Linked DNA regions of Homo sapiens: region 2 is reported to be linked to region 1. Evidence: microRNA targets listed by miRTarBase, many of them from high-throughput screens and not tested one by one. Region 1 holds a microRNA gene; the other region holds the end of a gene's coding sequence.
What was found. Region 1 holds the annotated microRNA hsa-miR-3175 (CGGGGAGAGAACGCAGUGACGU, at 1,104-1,125, shown strand). A microRNA usually pairs through its seed, bases 2 to 8, with sites in the 3' UTR of a target mRNA and lowers its output. Matches are read on the target gene's strand: a 7mer-m8 pairs with bases 2 to 8, a 7mer-A1 pairs with bases 2 to 7 and ends in A, and an 8mer does both.

Region 2: miRTarBase lists NCS1 as a target of hsa-miR-3175. The part of its 3' UTR that is shown has no 7-base or 8-base seed match.

Annotation. Positions count from the first base shown.
Region 1 is chr15:92,903,305-92,907,456 of GRCh38, forward strand. It overlaps MIR3175 (microRNA 3175), which reads left to right and starts at 1,095; the gene lies at 1,095-1,171. The region is part of intron 2 of CHD2 (chromodomain helicase DNA binding protein 2); the gene reads left to right. RefSeq lists enhancers at 628-1,827, 689-868, 1,149-1,388 and a silencer at 939-988.
Region 2 is chr9:130,225,777-130,229,776 of GRCh38, forward strand. NCS1 (neuronal calcium sensor 1) reads left to right here. Exons shown (of 8, transcript NM_014286.4): 7 at 613-728. The coding sequence ends at 711. Among named protein-coding and RNA genes, the nearest start is that of MIR12126, 14 kb to the right of the region's middle.

The DNA.
Region 1 (4,152 bases):
AAAGTATAGTGTTTAGGGAATACTACGAAAATCACCTTTGCAGCCTGAGCCACAGAAGAGGAAATGAGTTTGCAGGTCAAGTAAACTTTGGTCTGAGAATTACTTTAGTATCTGGAAAGAATGAGTGCAAGTTTAGGTAAATCTGGTAATACCCTGTTTTTGGAAATAGTGCAGTAGTTAATAGTGGTTATATAAGTTTGTATTTTAATTTGAAGTTAATGCTAAAGTCTGTTATACTTTATCACGATTTTTGAAAATTAAAAACTTTAAAAAACGCGATTTTAAAAACATTTGATTGATATTTGTAAAATTTCTAAGTATTTAAAACAAAGTTCTAATGATGGACATACGAGAAGTATACCATACTTTTTATCTGAATAATTTGCAGCTTGGGGATAACTTAAGTAACATCAAAGAATGAAAACGGGACTGTGTGCACACAAAGAGTTCAGTGTGTTCTCCACGGCACCACGTTAGCAATTTATCTTAAGAATTGAACGAGTTTATTAAATTTATCTCCAAATCGTCTGCCTTTGAGCCAGATTTATTTTTATAACCTGAGGTGCGGGTAAATCCTACAATTTTCAGGGGCGCTTTACCAGATATTCTAAAAGGCTGGGGATGATTAGAAATGGCATAATGCAGTTACTTGTGTACTAGAACAGGCAGTTTAACTGGCAGCCATTTTATGACGCTGATAATACATTAAAAAACGGGATTTTGGAGAAGACTGAATCTAAACTAATAGAAATCTGAAATACCAAAGCCTATTTCCTTCCCCCTCTCTGCTCTTCTGGGGAACTCTGGTGCCGACATAAAAGGCAGTTCGATAGGGCACGCAGCAGCTCTTTGAGCCCCTGGCATCTTGATGCAGGTCCAGCTCAGTCACAAAATGGCTGTTCCTTTGTGCCGCAGCGCTGACAGACATACTGCATTGCACTGTGTACTCGCCAAACAGCAGGAAGTTGCCGTGCCGAGTTCAAAGGCCGGCCGGCGCCGGCGCGGGGTGCTGATTGGCTGTGCGCGCGCCTGGTAACAGCAGGGTCAACGGCGGCGCCTTCGGCAGCCTCCGCCCCGTGACGTCAGACGGCTCCCCTGGGGGGCGGGGAGAGAACGCAGTGACGTCTGGCCGCGTGCGCATGTCGGGCGCTTTCTCCTCCCCCTACCCAGGGAGCCGCACGCCGAGGGGAAAAGGAAGGGAACTCTAGTTGGGACTTTCCGGTGGGCGGCTTCTTTCCTGGACGCGTTTGCTCCTGGCAGTCTTGTCCGCCCTTGCCTGTAGCGGTCCGCACCCTGTAGTGTGTTCTTTTGCCCATTTCCGGGAATGGTTTATCCTCTTTGAGAAGCGGCTGCTTTTGGAGAAAAAGTGCAGGCACTATTTATAAATTTTAAAGGCACTATTTGGAAATCTTAAAATAGAAAATTTGCCCAGTTTTACATTTTCCCTTTTCATACCTTAGCGTCCCTTCTCCCCGCCCCCGTTCAGTGTGAAGAGATGAGTGGGTTTAATTTTGTTACAATTGACCAAAACGTTTGAGTGTCAGAGGCGGATACTTTTATTTTAGTGAAAACCTCTTGACGGGTGTTAACAGCTGTTTAATACATGGCTCATAAACAAAGGGAAGATTATTTGAACTTGTCCCCATGCGTTTTTACTTGGTACCGTACATTTTCTCAGTTGGCATTTGATGGAGAAAAACTCAGGTCAGTATGTGCTAAGTACTATATATTTAAGATTCACAGTGGGATAGTTTAGTAGAAAATAGAAAATTTCACGTTCAATAACATTAAAAAGTGGCAGAATACAGCGTTAGGCAACCATTACTATGTAAGTAAATGTCAGAAAACTACTCTTTTAAGTGTTAATAGCACTTGCTAATGCAGGGTGACTGACAGCTTGGCTGATAGTGGGGTCACTTGGCCAAATCTTCGCAATTATCTTCCCTAGGCCTCCATTTCGGGAATTCTGAGTCCCGGTAAACGGTTGGGTTTATGCTCACTGATTTGCCTTGTTTGGAAACCTTTACAAGGATTTCTGGTTAAAACTTCATCGTTCAGCAACGATGTCTTAATAATTAAATTACACATACTGAATTTAAGCAAGCAAGAAATTCAGTGGATTTATCTACTGTGGACAAAGTTTTTTTCCTGCCATACTAGAGTTTTTTTAGCAGTTGGAGTAGGCTGTCCTGTAGTTAGCCATAGTTTAGAGTTATTTTAGTAAAGTGTGTTACTTCAAAGGAGATGTTGACCCTTCAGTGCAGGTGATATTTGCTTGGGCGTATGTCAAGTTTCTGAATACAGTCTGTGAAAGTTAGAATTCACTATGATAGTGAGTTTTGTAGGTTCTCATAATCTAGGTTCTTTGGGAAGAATTATTTGGATAGTTTGTGAAAACTAGCTGAAATTGCTTTTTCTGTTACAGAGAAGTGTTCATCAAATAATTTGTACCTGATTTTAAAATTATATGCTCAAATGTATATTGCGTATAAAATGCTAACAGAGAATTAAGTGTTTATAGAACTTGATGAACGTTTAACTGTAGCTTCCAACTTAAAGTATACCTGCCACAAGAACGAAAGTAATAATCTCACCTCCCTTTTTGTGTAGAGACTGAATTCTAATTAGTTGTGTTAATAGTATTTGCTGAATACCTTTCAATTCCTAAAACTGGGGTCAAAGTAGTCAACATTGCAGTTAATTATTTTTGAAGAGGATATGAACTATTCTGTTATTTAAGATATTTTAACCTAAATACCATTATGAGTTAAAATGCATACCATGATATAACAATTTACCTATTAACTGTTGACAATCTTGCAGCCAATTAAGTTTTTTATAGAACCAGTGTTCTTAGGTATGTTTGTTGAGCCTTCTACTTTTTTTCCCTTTGATGTGGGGAATAGCATCAAGCAGCAAGAAAAGAGTGTTGATCGATTTCTCTCTCTTTCTCTCTCTCTCTCTGTATCCTTGCCGTTTAAAATATGCACTTTCCAACTAGTATTTGGCCGTTAGGGAGTTAGTATCTTTGTAAAGATTAAGTCAGCAGAGGAAGGTGGGCAAATAATATTTTTGATAAAGACTTTTGGTTGTGACAGTTGTAGCAAGTTATTGCTTGAGGAGTGAATCTGGAAGTTTATTTGAATTTTAACTAAAACTCACAGATTTTATCATTAGTTTACTCTCCCTTACCCCCAAATAAAACAACTGACAGTTATGAGAGACCTCCTGAGACCACCTGGTATTTCCAAACTCCTATCATTTCTCCCATAAAATTTGATACACTAAGTTTGTTTCTGGTATAAAAATTGAGTGACTGCTCTGTGTCAGCCATTAAATTTTTTCTTGCTATGAGCCATCTTTTTTTTTTTTTTTTTTTTAAGATCCTTTAGTTTTTAGCTGCTTCTTGGTAACCTTAGAACTTTGCTTCCTTGAAGAACTTGGCTTTCTTGATATGGTGTCACTTGAACAAAGAAACTTAAAAAAAAATTCCTCTAAGAGTATTTTGTGTACAGGTGAAAGTAACTTTGTGGCTTGGTTACACTGGGTGTGTCACAGCTGAGTAACTCCCTCCTGCACTTCAGCTTGACTAAGCGTTGAGTTCACATGTATACCTTTGCAAAGCTGCCATTCACAACTTGTTTTGGAACTTTAGGGTTATCAGTATAAAGCCTGAGTAACAAAACTTAGTCATCCAATGTCCAGGCTGGATTGTATTTTTATTTTGTGATCAGTAATTCAGCACAATGCTGGAACACATTACTCACATTTGTCTTATGACCCTTTTCTGTAATCAATGGAATCTTTAATTGATAAAGCAAGTCTAGGGGGAGAGACATTTTTTAAAAAAAGCTCCTATATACTGAATATATTTGAGCCCTGATTATGAAGTGAGGGACAAGGCTTTTCTTTTTGAAATAAATGATGGAGGACATAGATATGTGGTAGCCATTCATGCTACATAATTTAGCATTTTATTGTTAATATGTTTGGTTATGGGTCTTCTTGTTTGGTATTTCAACATGTTCTGGACTGGATATCATACTGAAAAGTATTTCAGTTCTCATTACTGAGTCCCTGTAGTTTGGGGAAAATGTGATCACTGATCTTGAAGGAGAGAATGTTTCAGAAGCATCCGGCTAAGGCAGGATT
Region 2 (4,000 bases), not on the chromosome of region 1:
CCCTCTCTGGATACCCGAGATCGAGTAGGTGCTCTCCGTGGCCTTTTCCTTGTGGTCCGCCGGCTTCCTTGAGAGATGCTCCGGGGAAGGGATTCTGGCCCAAACATCCCCTCCCCGAGAGACCCACTAAAATTCCTCTTTCTGAGCCATGTCCAGCCCCCTGCCGGGTCTCCCAGGGTCCAGTGTGGGCTGCTCCAGGAGCAGTTTAAATGCCCTTCCAAGAGTGACCCCAGAGAACTGCACGAGGCTCTCAGCCTTGTCAGTTACTCACATTGATGGGGTTTAATAGCATTAACCATGACACGTGTGGAGTTACAGGGCACTTCCAGTTGGTCAAGCACAGAGCTGTCACCCGAGTGCCTGGAGGAAGCCAGGTAATTACCCTCCATCCCCAGGTGAAGAAACATGCCCAGAGAGGTGGGCCACGGCCCAAGGCCACCCTGCCATGAGTGCCGAGGTCTGTCTGGTGCTGGCTGCTTGTAGGCCCTGAGCCACGTTGCCTCCCTCCTGATCTAACCTTGGAAGGGCTCTTGGGACCGGCCCTGGGCTGGGCTTGTCTAGAGCCCTCTCCTGGGAGGCCCTGCACCCTCAGCCGCCTCTCTCTGCTCACAGAATGCCGACGGGAAGCTGACCCTGCAGGAGTTCCAGGAGGGTTCCAAGGCAGACCCGTCCATTGTGCAGGCGCTGTCCCTCTACGACGGGCTGGTATAGTCCCAGGCTGGAGCTGGGTGAGTGCAGACTCGGGGCCTGGGGTGGGTCTGGGATGGGTCAGGGGTGAAAACCCAGCAGCAGGACACCTACGGTTGGCAGGTAATTACCTGGGTCTCTGGGGGTGTTGTGGTCAGCCTAGCAGGGACATAGCTGGGAGGAGGAGGCTGGAAGGGGGGCCTTCAAATTGGTCAGAGCTCCTCTGTTTTGATCATTTTTATAGACCCAGATCAGCCTGCGAGTTTGCTTGAACAGAATTTTTCTGGGCGCGGTGGCTCACGCCTGTAATCCCAGCACTTTGGGAAGCTGAAGCAGGCGGATCACCAGGTCAGGAGTTCAAGACCAGCCTGACCAACATGGTGAAACCCCGTCTCTACTAAAAATACAAAAATCAGGCGGGCGTGGTGGTGCGCACCTAGTCTCAGCTACTTGGGAGGCTGAGGCAGGAGAACCGCTTGAACCCAGGAGGTGGAGATTGCAGTGAGCCGAGATCGTGCCACTGCACTCCAGCCTGGGTAACAGAGTGAGACTCCATCTCAAAAAAAAAAAAAAAAAGAAAAGAAAAAAAAAAAAAGAAAAGAATTGTCCTGGGTGGAAGACACTTTGAAAATTAGTTCCCAACCAGGGCCAGGGACCTGGGAGAGCAATTTCTTATCCCCTCTCTGAGCAGCCGGTTGAAGACCTAACTAAGCTCCTAGCTGTCACAGAATGATAGCACGCCTGGCAGAGGCCCCTGTTGCTGGTAGAGAGCTGTCTCCCTTCTTTCCTTCTCCTCTCCTCCCTTCTCCCCTTTTTTCCTGCCTCTTCTTTGTGGAGTGTTCAATGTAGTCTGCGGGGAGTGGGTGTGAATAACGTCCAAGGTATTGTCCAGAGATCAGCGTTCTTGTCCACGTCCTGGTGAACCAGTGGATGCCTGCTGTTGGTGTATATGTAAGGGTAGAATTGCTGGGACATAGGATATGTGTAATATTTAGCTTTGGTAGTTACTAGAAAACAGTTTCCAAAGTGGTTGTGCTGTTTTGCGGTCCCACTAGTAGTGTATGAGAGTTCCAGTTGCTCCACATCCTTGCCAACACTGGGTATTTTCTGTCTTTTCAAATTTTAGCCATTTTTGTGAGTATGGAGTAATAACTTGTTCTAAGTTTACTTTGCATTTCTCTGATAAGCAGTGACGTTGAATGCCTTGTTATAAGTGTATCACCCATTTTAATGTGCTCATTTGTGATGTGCTAGGTTAGTTATCCATTGCTACATATTACATTACCACAAACAGCAGCTTAAGAACAAACATTAGGAATTTGGCACAGTTAAGCTGGGTGCCTCTGGCTCAAGGACTCTCAGGAGTATGCAGTTCAGCTGTCAATAGGGTTTGCCCAGGTCTATCCTGGATTTAGCAGTGCAAGTTCCCTGTTCTAGGAAACTTCTCAGTCCCGGGAAAATTGGGATACTTGTCAGCCATTGGCCAGGGCTGTGGTCTCATCTGAAGGTTTGGCTGGTGATGACCTGCTTCCAAGCTCACTCATGTGGTTTGGCAGCCTTGTTCCCTTGCCATGTAGACACCTGCACAGGGCTGCCTCACAATATGGCTGCCGGCTTCCCTCAGAGCTTTCCAAGAGAGAAGGAGAGAAAGAGAGCCAGGATGAAAGCCAGTGTCTTTTTATAGCATAATCTTGGAAGTGATATCCATCACTTTTTCTTTTTCTTTCTTTTTTTTTTCTGCGACTGGGTCTCACTCTGTTACCCAGCCACCAGGTCATGGCTCACTGCAGCCTCAACCTCCCAGACTCAGACGAGCCTCCCACCTCAGCCCTCAGCTTTCCAAGTAGCTGGGACTACAGACATTTGCCACCATATCTGGCTAATTTAAAAAAAAAAGTGTTTTTTTTGTTTGTTTGTTTTGTTTTGTTTTTTTTCTGTAGTGTAGAGATAGAGTCTCACTATGTTGCCCAGGCTGGTCTGGAACTCTTGACCTCAAGTGATCCTCCTACCTCGGCCTCCCAAAGTGCTGAGATTACAGGTGTGAGCCACTGCACCCAGCCATAGATTGGTTTTTGAATGCTAAGTCACCTTGCATTCTTAGAATAAACTCCACTTTGCTGTGATGTGTTATTTTTTTATGTATCATAAAATTTGATTTGTTGGCATTTTGTTTAGGAGGTCTACACTGTTTTTTTCTTTCTTTCTTTCTTTTTTTTTTTTTGAGACAGGGTCTCACTCCATCACCTAGGCTGGAGTGCAGTGACATGATTTCAGCTCACTGCAGCCTCTGCCTCCTGGGTTCAAACAATTCTCCTGCCTCAGCTTCCCGAGTAGCTGGGACTATAGGCACCTGCCACCATGGCGCCTGGCTAATTTTTCCATTTTTAGTAAAGATGGGGTTTCACCATCTTGGCTAGGCTGGTCTCGAACTCCTGACCTCAGGTGATCCACCCACCTCAGCCTCCCAAAGTGCTGGAACTGCAGGCGTGAGCCACCATGCCTGGCCAGGCCTACACTGTTTTGAAGCGTCTGTTATTATTATTATTATTTTTCACAAGAAATCCTTTTTCATTGAAGAGACATTGAAAATATGTTTAATGAGAAAACCTCAATTAAAAAGTTTATTTTAAAAAAAACCCCTTATGTATGACTCAGATATAATCACAGTGAACATTTTAGTGTCCAGAGTGATTTTAAAAGAATTGAACACTTACAAAACTTAACACTCAGTAAACTGAGTCACACAGAAATTATATAATTAAAACCAATTTATAAAGGAACTATCACTGTTATTAATATTTCTTTTTTTTTTTTTTTCCAAGATGGAGTCTCCCAGGCTGGAGTGCAGTGGCGTGATCTTAGCTCACTGCAACCTCTGCCTCCTGGGTTCAGACAATTCTCATGCCTCAGCCTCCCAAGTAGCTGGGATTACAGGTGCTTGCCACCACGCCCGGCTAATTTTTGTACTTTTAGTAGAGATGGGGTTTCAGCATGTTGGACAGGCTGGTCTCGAACTCCTGACCTTGTGATCCACCCACCTCAGCCTCTCAAAGTGCTGGGATTACAGGTGTGGGCCATCGCGCCTGGCCAATATTTCCATCATAGAAATGTTTGACGTGTACCTTGACATGTCCCATGGTGAATGCTGATCCGTTGTCTAATTTTTCACAGTCCTCTTTTGCAAATCACCATGTCATATTATTTCCATGACAAGCTTGTCAAAGTGACAAGAGCCCTCGCATGATATGATCCCCCTTTCTATTAGCTCTGCTGGGAAATGGCCTTCTTTCTTCTATAGGGCTGTTCCTTGTGC